Regions from separate parts of the Homo sapiens genome. Here region 2 is linked to region 1. A link means that fine-mapping ties the variant in region 1 to the expression of a gene that starts in the linked region. Tissue or cell type: cerebellar hemisphere. Region 1 holds a variant in brackets; the other region holds the start of a gene. All regions are shown on one strand. Distances are between the middles of the regions.

Region 1 (5,813 bases):
CAAGTCACATATTAGATTGGTGAGAGACTATCAACAGCCAGGTCCCCTCATAACCAAAATCATTTATTCTCACAGTTATTTCTTTTAAACTCTACCTTGCTGCCCCAGGAGCTTTGATTTCTGAACTTTTCTACCTTGGGTTGGTCTTTGGCAGTGAGTGTCACACATCTGTCCTGCTGAGATGAGAAGCCGGAACCTGGGTCTCCACTGGAGCATCCCCATACCATCCTGTTACATGTTCCACCTGTTTTTTTGTATCCAGATCCACTTTGATATACTTGCCCAGGACACAGCAATTGTTAGTTAGTATGCTTGCTTTTTACCTTGTAAACAGTGTACAAATAGAGTCCAAATTTAGTATGCAAATTACAAAATAAAATGTTATTTTTATGACTGAAAAATGCAATGAACTGCACAAATTCATTATGGCAGAGCATATGAATATTCTCTTAGTGAAGCTCTTGCTTTCCTAGCTCAATCAACAATGTCCCTTCCTTACAGCTGCCAAGGAAAAAAACTTTCCCTAGATCTTTCAGCCATAGCTGGAAGCGCTGATGGCCCCTCCGTGTGTGCATTCAGATAAATTGTTAACTTAAATGGTTTTCCACTGAGAAGTGGAATCAGTAATAACTGGGAGTGCTAGATAGATTCTACTTGCCCGGGACCCTAGAGTGATAATTATTCTGTTACAATGAGGAGTAAGGCAAAATGCGGAGTAGTTATGACTGTATTTACCAATTTGTTGTGAAAAATTTATAAATATCAGGTAATACGTCAAAGGAATGAAGTATGACAGACCCCCTACCCTCAGAAAGGTTTTATTCTGAAGTATATAATACAAAGCAAAAAGCAAAAGATACTTAAGATGGGAACACTTAGAACACATTAAAATTCAGAGGTACGTGTGATTATTCCCAGCTAGAAGGAATCAGTGAAAGTTTTTGTGGAGATATCATTTAGGTGCAACACTAGTAGACTTTGTACATGCAATTGTGAGAAAGAAGAGAGTATTTAAGATGTGTACACTTCTATTAGCAGGGGCATGGGTATGTGCATAAATAACAGAGTAGTTGTGTATTTGTGAAGGAACTAGCGAGAAAAATGGACAGAAATGGAGGTTGGAATCACACTGTGGAGGGCTTAAATTCCAAGCTAAGGACTTTTCTCTTTAATTATAGGCAATTGGCAATAAGGTCATGGAAGTTTTGAACCTGAGAGTTAATATGAAAACCATGTATCATGCTTTGAGAAGACGAATCTGGTAACATCAGACAGTAAGACAATGTGGAGAGCAAGGAGAAGAGGTAAGAGCTGGCCAGGCCACCAAAGGCTATTCTTTATTCACATTCATGTTCAAGACTAATTAGACTGTGAAATCTCTCAGGGTATTGGAGAAACAGAACTGAGAGCTGGTCAGAAGCTTCACGGGATTAGTGTTCAGGCTGAGAGTGTCAGTAATGAATCCCGCCATGGGTGTGCCATGGCACTGTGGGAAAAAAAGTTCATTGTGCAGACTGTTACCTGCTGACATCAGCTGGATTAAGAGCTGACAAAGATGAATTATTTAATTTGGAAGAATCATTTTGGAATTTTCACATCAGTCTTACCTCTCCCCAGATAAGACGGATCTGAAAACAGATCAGTACTGATCAAATTTTGTATTGACAATAAACATTTTAATTCTAATGTTTTAATCTGTTTTATACATCATCTTTTAATTCATCTGCTAATCTGATTAAAAATCTGTGTAAAGATTTTACTTGCTAAATTTCATGTATGGGGATGTGAGTGATGTCAAAGGCCATTTTACCTTGACTGATTTGTTGAGGTTATTCTGATCTGGGAGACATTTTTGAATCAGCCATTTATAAATGTGTCAAAATTGTGTTATAAAACAGGAAAACCATTGTTTTAATTGCCAAGATGTATGTGCAATAGACATCCTTGAGCCTACCTATATCTGGGACCTAGAATTATCTTCAGAGCCTCAGTCACTGTCAAATGGGATGTAGATACTCATCCTGGCCTTCCCACTAATTGTTGTGAGGATCAAAAAGGCAGTTTATGAACCTTCTATGTACACAATAAAGAGCTACATAGTAGGGAATTGCTGTTACACAATGTTTTCTCTATTTCCAATTATTTATTTGATGGAGATGTTACATAAATAAGTGTGTGTCCCTCAAGGAGAGAGAGAATGATTAGGACACATTAAATGAAGAAGCTCCTTAGATGGGAGGCCAGTCCCTTCTACAGAACTTCCTGATCATGGGCCTGTTGGTTTATCAAAGATAGGGAAGGGATCTAGGTTAGTGATGATACAGAAATACAATAAATATTGGTCAATGAATGAGAGAGCCAATGAAATGGATACCCAATTTGCCAGTGTGGCTCCTTGTGAGACTTAGAGGAAAGCTTCTCTTCCTCTAGGTAAACTCAGCCCTGAGTTAGAGTGTCCTGATTGGTGAGCAAGTACAGGGTGAATTATCAACCCACTTGTCTCCTTGGCTAGGGAACCACGTGCAACGTACAACTTTCACAATATAGCATGTGAAATTATGATAATCAGCTCAGACAGAACTTCCTCCCATTGTTTTTCTTGAATGTAGACTCACAAGGCACTTCCTGTATTCCATTATCTTGCATCATTAGTCATCTTTCCATGGGTGCCTAATATCAACATCTTTGGCACAGGGTCTTGCACTTAGTGGAGCCTCAAGGCCTGTTCATTGTCAAAACTCAATATATGTTCAATACATGTTTCTTTGGGGCTCATATTTTCATGTGATATAATCAAAATAGGTATTGTCAAAGCTTTTTTAAGTTATCACCTCTTCATCCTCTTATTCCCCATCAATATTCCATATAACTTATGCCATGACATAATTTCAATTTAGACAGCAGATAATGAGAGTTGTCTTGCTTGATCAATGGGAAGAATTTTGGCTCCTGATGCAGCCAAGTTTTTTGAGCACACCTGGAAATCATATTAAAGAGGAGACCTTTTCCTGTTTTTAGTCCCTGATGATTGAACAGGAGCACAGAGCAGGTGCAGCATGCCACACAGAGCAAGAGGCAGGGATTCTCAAATAGGCTAGAGACAAAGCAATGGCCAGGTAAGGGAACATTTATTTTTAGACTGAAGAAAGCCTTTTGAGTGGGGTTTTGTT[T/C]CTCCTTCTGTACATTGTAATGCCTGCCAAGTCAGATTGCTGCAGAAGCTGTGCTTTTTAGCCAGGGGAAAATAATCCTGAATCTCAAAAACAGTGACCCAGAACCCAGAAAAGCATTTTTCATTCATATTTATCTCTATATAAAACAATAATAATGTAGTAATTCCCATTTCTCAAGTTCAAATTGGATCATAGGCTTTTAAAATTGTTCGTCTTTAACAGCCTAAACCTAACAGGATAGATTCCATGATCTTCATTTAAAGAATGAGCCAAGAGAATCTCACAAACTTACCAAATGATAGAGACTAACTTCAAGTCCAGGTCTGTCTGGCCCCAAATCCTGCATTGTCCTCATTATGCTTAATGTACTGGCTGCCATTCTGGATTTTATAAAGTCACATTTTCTGTTCATGTTAGATCATTGATTTCATTGCCCCTTCAATACTTTTATCAGTTCTTTGACAAAGGCACAGACTTGTGGTGGTTCTACCTATTGTCCAGAAATCCCCCAAAATGTTGTTTTTGTCAAAGCAGTGACACTATCAGGCAACTAGTATCTAATTTTTCACATGTAACTCTGATAGTCTTCCACTTATATGTTTATTGATAATCCTTTAATATCTACTCTGAATTTCTTATTCTGTTAGAAACTTTGAGCTACATAAAGTATCTTATGTGTTCCATATTTAAGTTCACATAGGGATTGATTGAATAAAAATAACAAAACCTTTGATAAACTCTTTGTTTATAAACTTTCTAACCACCCCTTCCTACAGTCACCTCCTCACTCACTTGTCATAACACAATAATATGGCTGAATCAGAAATAAGAAAATGGCAACACTTGAGCATAGTAATATAGTAAGCATTTAATCATGTTGAATTACATCTTCCTATACTATTCAGCAAAAGTTGTCAGAAAATAGTTTCATGTCAAGTTAAAGAATTCTGTTTGTGTTAATAGCTGACTCTAGTAAATTCACAAATTAAAAATAGCAGTATTAATAGACAAGTGGATCAGGACAGATGGGAGACAGGACTATATTACAGCTCTGAGTGGACAGACGTAGCAGCGTGTGGAGGTTCACATCATGAACTTTTGCTCCAGACTGTCTGCAGGAATAAATCAGAAAACCTGAGAGGACCCACAGACCCCCTGAAGGAAGTGGATTGTTCCTGCAGGACCCAGGAGACACCCCAAATACTGTGTTGGTATCCACAGCTGAGAGGCCCACAGATGGGTCACATCACAGGACTCTGCGCAGACAACCCCCAGTACCAGCCTGGGGCCTGGTAGGCTGCTGGGTGGCTAGATCCAGAAGAGATACAACAATCACTGCAGCTCGGCTCTCAGGAAGCCACATCTATAGGAAAAGGGGGACAGTACTACATCAAGGGACCACCCTGTGGGACAAAAGAATGTGAACAGCCTTCAGCCCTAGACCTTTCCTCTGACAGAGACTACCCAAATGAGAAGGAATCAGAAAACCAACTCTGGTAATATGACAAAATAAGGTTTGTTAACACCCCCAAAAAATCACACTAGCTCACCAGCAATGGACCCAAACCCAGGAGAAATCCCTGATTTACCTGAAAAAGAATTCAAGAGGTTAGTTATTAAGCTAATCAGTGAGGCATCAGAGAAAGGCGAAGCCCAATGTAAGAAAATCCAAAAAAGAATACAAGAAATGAAGGGAGAAATATTCAAGGAAATAGATAGCATAAATGAAAAAAACAACCAAAACTTCAGGAATCAATGGACACATTTATAGAAATGCAAAATGTCCTGGAAAGTCTCAGCAATAGAATTGAACAAATAGAAAAAAGAAATTCAGAGCTCAAAGACAAAGTCTTTGAACCCAATCCAACAAAGACAAAAAAGAATAAGAAAATATCAACAAAGCCTACAAGAAGTCTGGGATTGTGTTAAATGATCAAACCTAAAAATAATCTGTGTTCCTGAGGAAGAAGAGAAATCAAAAGTTTGGAAAACATATTTGGGGGAATAATTGAGGAAAACTTCCCTGACCTTGCTAGAGACCTAAACATCCAAACACAAGAAGCACAATGAACACCCGAGAAATTCAGTGCAAAAGATCATCACCTAGGCACATCGTCATCAGGTTATCTAAGGTCAAAACAAAGGAAAGAATCTTAAGAGCTGTGAGACAAAAGCACCAGATAACCTATAAAGGAAAACCTATCAGATTAACAGCAGATTTCTCAGCAGAAACCCTACAAGCTAGAAGGGATTGGGGCCCTATTTTCAGCCTCCTCAAACAAAACAATTATCAGCCAAGAATTTTGTATCTAGTGAAACTAAGCTTTATATATGAAGAAAAAATAGTCTTTTTCAGACTAACAAATACTAAGAGAATTCGCCACTACTGAACCACCACTACAAGAACTATAAAAAGGAGCTCTAAATCTTGAAACAAATCCTGGAAACACATTAAAACAGAACCTCTTTAAAGCATAAATCTCACAGGACCTATAAAACAAAAATACCATTTAAAAAACAAAAACAAAAAAAGGCATACAGGCAACAAATAGCATGATGAGTGGAATAGTACCTCACATCTCAATATTAACATTGAATGTAAATGGTCTAAATGCTCCACTTAAAAGATACAGGACTGCAGAA
Region 2 (5,813 bases), 190 kb before region 1:
TCCAGTATGTGTAGGGTGGTGGTGGTGGTGGTAATACATAAAACAATACTGTCCATGAATTAATTGTGAAGCCACATGATTAGGTCCATGACAGTTCTTTATACTGTTTTCTCTACTTTTGTGTATATTAAAATTTTCCATAATAAATTTTCACAGTGAAAATGATCTAACCTTTCTTGGCTTCCACTTCCCCATCCATAAAATAGAAATATTAACAGAATCTTCTATTGTGAAGATTAAGGTTGTATCTGACTTACAGTAAACATTCAGTAGATGCTCACTATTGTTCTCGCTCAACTATGTAAATATATAAACAGATTTAAAAAGACATGAGATATAGATCAAAGTTTTATTAGTAGATGCTTCTGGATGGTAAACCAAGAGCTAATTTATTTTTCTTTTCATCATTTATGTCTGGACTGTTCAAATATCTACAAAGAGTATTTGTTACTCTTATAATAAGACAAAAAAACCTAACTCTTTAAAAAAAGTAACTTTAAGTCTTCCTTGAGAGAGTTTAATGCCAAGGGGGCCTGAACCATGTTTGTCCCACAAGATATTTTACAAACAAGACCACTTCATGGAAGAGTAAGATGGAATGCATATTACTGTCTTGTTCACATTTTCCTCACCAAGCTCTCATGCTCAGGGTCAAAGATCCTTGTAAACGCCAGTAAGCTTTAACATGTGGCCTTCCTAGAATAGAATGAATTGAGCCTTCCTCTCCTCCAGTGTCATGCCATCCTACTCCCTTACCTTACCACACGTTCCTCCCTACTAGCAGTTTAGCCTTTTTTAAGGGGCATGGATCACTTTGAGAATATCATGAATGCTATGCCAAGAAAAATTCACATGTAGGCATACAATATTGCATTCAATTTCCTAGGGTTCATGGGCTGCCATAGTTCATCTCCACTAATTAAGCTTACTGAGGCCATGACATCAAATTTAGGAATGTAGAAACACACATCCGGTGTATAGACCACTTTGAGAAAAACTAATTTGTACAAAACCATAAGCCAGATAAATTGGTGGATAATTATGGGCATTACATATGTGGCTTTTGCTCTGCCAAATAATTTCCATTAGGACATCTATAAATAGCAAATCCATATAATGCATTTGAACCATGCCACTGTTTGCCCAAATGCTAAGCCCTTTCCAGAACACGCCTACTGCAGAGCAACAGGCCAATTCAAAAAGTTCAATACTAGTTTTACTCTTGAGTTCAGCTACATTCATTTATAGAATTCTAGCTTTCCTCTAAAATGGCCACTAACCTATATCACTCTGGGGACTGATGTTCAATGGGAGGCAATGATACCCAGAAACTTTTTGACTGAGGAGAGGTAGTGCATGTGTATGGGTTATCAGATTGCTTTGGAGTGGATCATTTGAGATGAGATAGATTCCATCTCTTTATCTCAGGAAGGAAAAGGATAAACATGATTGAGTCCTTACAGTATACCAGGTGGACATTAGGGCCTCTCATGTACTCCTCACAATGTCTCTGGAAGTTGGGGCTTTTTCCCTCATTTCCAACCGAGTTTTAGAAAAGTTGACACACATACCCCAGGTCTGGCAGCCAGTAAGTAACAGGAAAAAAATAAAAATAAATAAGATGTAAAGCTTTCGGGCTTAGATTACCATCATTGATGGTTAACTTCAGGGGGCTGGGAAATGTACAGTGCCCAGTATCACACCAAATCCCCAGAGCCACTCAGGCTGTGATTTTCATCCTCCTGATCATATCAATGGCTTCCAGGGATGCATGTGAAGAGAGACAGGATCGCAGTCTTCCTTGCCCCATCTGGCCTGTCCCTATCCTATAAACTGGCAACCCCTTTCCTTTGCTGGTATACACGGACTGCCTCACATTCCCCAAATGCCTGGGGATCGCACAATGAAATCAGAATAAAGAGCCAGGAGCTCTACACTTAAAAGAATCCACATAACTACAAACTCCATCTTAGGATTTCCACCACCAGCTGAGTTGCCATTTGGCATTGCACTGCTAGCAGCCACATTTTACTCTATCCTCTTCCAAGATTTTCAAACATGTGCCTGGCACCCACGGGAGTTTCAGAGGAAGTGTAACAGTGACAGGAGAACTGCTGCGGGCTTGGTTTTTTGTATACGTGTTAGTGTAACTTTCATAAAAGCAAGTATAGGTTCTTAGAGTATTAACTTTCACAAGAGGAACATCAACTTTCAGACAAACGCAGGCAAACCCTTTCTTTTTCTTTTTCTTTTTTAGTGAGTAGTATCTGAAGGTAGGGGTGATCCCTGTTAAGCAAAAGGTCTCTGAGACCCTTGGGATACATACATGCTTTTCTGGCCCAGTACTCAAGCTTTTCTGGAAGAGTATCCCTCGGCTGTCTCCATCCCTCAGCCTTCAGAAGCCACCTAATACCTACCTACACGTGCTTTGGACACAAGCAGGTTCAAAGCACAAAAAAAACCAAGCTACCACCCCGCAAGAAATCGATCTCTGAACCCGGAGCCACCATGAATTGCGTGTGTGAATGTGTGGGCGGGAAGGCTGGGTCCACAGGGACGTGGTCCAGCATCGTGAGCAGCGGGTCCTACCGGACGTTCAAGTCCTACAGCCCTGGGCTAACTAGCAAGTCTCAGACCCCCACGCCCGTGCTAGATAGGAGGAGAGACAAAGCTGGACCGACAGGAGAGGAGAGTGAGTTTGTGTTCTCTTGGGGGCAAGCGTGCTCGGTACCTTGGATTCCTGGCTGCTGGTGGATGCAGGAGAGGGCGGTTGCTCGGCGCCCACCGCCTCCTTGGGCAGCCCGTCCACGCCGTCCTCGCGGGGGCTGCTCGGAGGGATCATCGTGGCCGCGCGGGAACGGTGTTGGGCTCCCGGAGGAACAGCGAGGCTTCTGTCCTGCGCGCCCTGCCCGCCGCGCGCCAGGCTGCTCAGCTCCGGGTCCTGGGGACTCCCATCCTCGCCGAGGCGCCGACGTGCCCTCCTCCAGCCTCGCTCCCTCTCCCTCCCCGCCCTGCCCACCTCCCCGGCACTTCCGCGGGCGTGGAGGAGAGTGCGCCCTGCCCCGCCCCGCCGCGCCCGCGGCCACCTCGCCGGCGACCTCACAGTCGTGACTGCCACTCGGCAGCGGGCGAGCGGGCTTCTGCTCGCCCGCAGGAGGAGGAAGGAGGCGGGGAGGCAGCTCCAGGGCGGGGCTGCGCGGCCAGCGCCTGGAGTAGTGAGGGCAGGCAGGGGGCAGCGCCCTGGAAAGGGCTGGGGGAAGGCTGGGCGCACGCCGGCACTGGGTGGGGGTGATTCTTCAGAGAGGATGCTGAAAATTCAGACCCAAACCCCAAAGAATAGAAAATCTGTGAATGATATAGCCAGAAAGAGCCACTTGCAACAACTCCCTCATTCCTCACCCCAACGAATAGTGACTGAGACAGTGACTTAGCTAAGCTATTTATAGGGTTCAGTGACAGAGAGCAGGGGTCGGAGTGGGGGTCCCCTGACTCACGGGCACTGCGTTTTCTCCATTCAGCTTTGATCTAAAGCAGAGAGATAATGCAGTGTGTATATGGACACCTGTTCCTCGTTTGTTGTGCACTTATTGTACTAAACCCTTTCTTTTTACCTTATTTAATCCTCCCAGCTACTCTATGCGTCTAGGGATTATCACTTCCATTTTATAGATGAGGAAGTTGAGGCTGTAGGAAGACTGAGTAATTTGCTTTAAGTCACTAAACTATAATTGGTGAAACTGGAATTCGAACACATTTGGGCTTCAAAATCCATGCATTTCCGACTGTGGAGCCTCAAATCTAGGCCAGGTCTTGGCTGAAGAGCAATTGGATGTTGCAGTATAGCAAGAGTTGAGGACTGTTCACAGAGGGGCAAACCAGCCTGCCTTACTAAATCTTTTGGAAACATAGGAATAGCCCCACTGAATAAAGATACAGAGGGTCCAGTTTCTTTTGAAGACAACCTCAGTGTGCAGGGAAAAGAAACACACCTAGATATTTAAAAGCCTCTTTTCCCCCATTAATACAAAATACCCTCAATTTTTTAAAACAAAATTGCAAACTTCTGTTCAGATTTTTAAAATTAGCTGTAGATGTTTGCAAGAACAGCTTCATGGATGTGCAACCTGTGCAGTCACACAGGGCCCCGCGCTGATGCTGCCATCTTGAAATTCGGTAAAAATATTTAACAAGAGATCACATTTTCATTTTGTACTTGACCCTGCAAATTATGTGTTTGGTCCTGCATCCATGCCCTAGCTCATGTCTTTTAGAATAAACTTGCTCTTACTCTTTCCATCCCAGATGTCAATTGAAAGCTACTGTTCAATGTGTCAGCCTCTTACTCAGCATTTAGCTTTCAAAATGCTCTAAATTTTCTGGTGACCCTCAGTACGGGGCCAGATTGGCTAGCCCAAATGGCTTCAGCTTTTTCCTTCTCACAACACAATGCCTGAGTGTTCGATAGAGACAGAATTCTAGTAGCCAAAGTCACAAACACAATGACAGGAGCAGCCATATCAACACATTTTTATCAAGCATCTATTCTGTATCAGAATTGTGCCAGAAACTAATGATACAGCAGAGAGAAAACACAGATTAAGTCTGTTTTCCTGGAATTTAAGTCTAGTGGGAGAGACAGCAATTAATTAAATCACACACACATTTAAAAAAAAACTATGATAAGGGAAAGTACAAGACTTTGATGAGTGTGTACAAATGAAGCCTGAGCTAGCATGGGGCCAGACGAGGGTTTTCTTAGGAAACAAAACTCCCAGGGTCTACTGGCAATTCCAGTCTTGGTGAGCAAGCATGTCATGGCTTAGAACAATAAATTTTTCATCCTTTTTTTCTTTTGGATTTTCTTTTTTTAAGAATTGAAGATGTCATCCTTACTTTTAGTAAGTGCTTAGCTCAAGTTAGCAACAGTATTAGCCAATAGTATATGTTTAAATGTTGTCCCTTGAAGGAAATTTAGAGAAGCTAGTACCTCCTTCCTTTCCACCCCACCCTGATCCAGCAGCAGAAATCCTTAGTCTGATAAATAATACCTACCATAGGAATTAGCCATGGTGTCCCAAACTAAATCACGCCTTTGTTTATGTGTTAGTTTCACATTATTTTCTATCCGATCTTTTGTTATCTAGCTAACTTATCTTATTCTTCAAATCACATATCCAAGTATTTACTACTCTTGACATCTCCTTCCTTGACCCATTTATCTGATTTAGATTCCCAAATCAATGCCATGTTCCCATGACTTCCTTTCCTAAGTAATCAATGACAAGGTTGCCTGCTCTTCTGTTGGGCTATGATCTCCCCTAGGGCAGGGGCAATGCCATGTTCATCTTGTTTCTCTAGCTCCTGGTATAATGCTTGTTAACAAGGTGGTGAAAAGAGGCTACCCTTGTAGCCCCTGAGCTCTAGAAATGGTCTAGGCATTAATTATTGCATGTGTCCTCCACAAACTGAATGGAAGAAGACTCTGAATGCTTCTGTAAAACAATGGGATTTGTCAGTGCTTTGAGTCAGTAGATGGTAGACCAGCAAAGTGATCCCCAGAGTACCCCTCATGAAGCATTGATATCCCTGAGCAGAAGTGTACATTTTCATGGCTATGTGTGAGATACCCCATCTGACACCCAGGAATGCTTAGGTGAGACCTCACAGAAGACTGGAAATTCTGCCTTAGAAGCTTTATGACATTTTAGCTATGGTTGTCAAGATTTCTCATTTCTACTGCAGTCTGGTAAAGCCTGAGGAAAAAAGGTTGTGAATAATTATTCTAAGTCTCAAGTCTGTAGCTTTGTGATTTT

The links. PIP is the estimated chance that this variant, and not a neighbour inherited with it, causes the effect.
Region 2: STAC starts here. The variant in region 1 is fine-mapped to the expression of STAC in cerebellar hemisphere (GTEx, PIP 0.98).

What each region holds. Positions count from the first base shown.
Region 1 is chr3:36,190,405-36,196,217 of GRCh38, reverse strand. No RefSeq gene overlaps it. Among named protein-coding and RNA genes, the nearest start is that of STAC, 190 kb to the left of the region's middle. The variant T/C (reference allele first, on the strand shown) is at 3,171.
Region 2 is chr3:36,377,673-36,383,485 of GRCh38, reverse strand. It overlaps STAC (SH3 and cysteine rich domain), which reads right to left and starts at 2,982. Exons shown (of 11, transcript NM_003149.3): 1 at 2,732-2,982. The coding sequence starts at 2,842. All of the region lies in intron 2 of LOC124906227 (a long non-coding RNA gene), which reads left to right.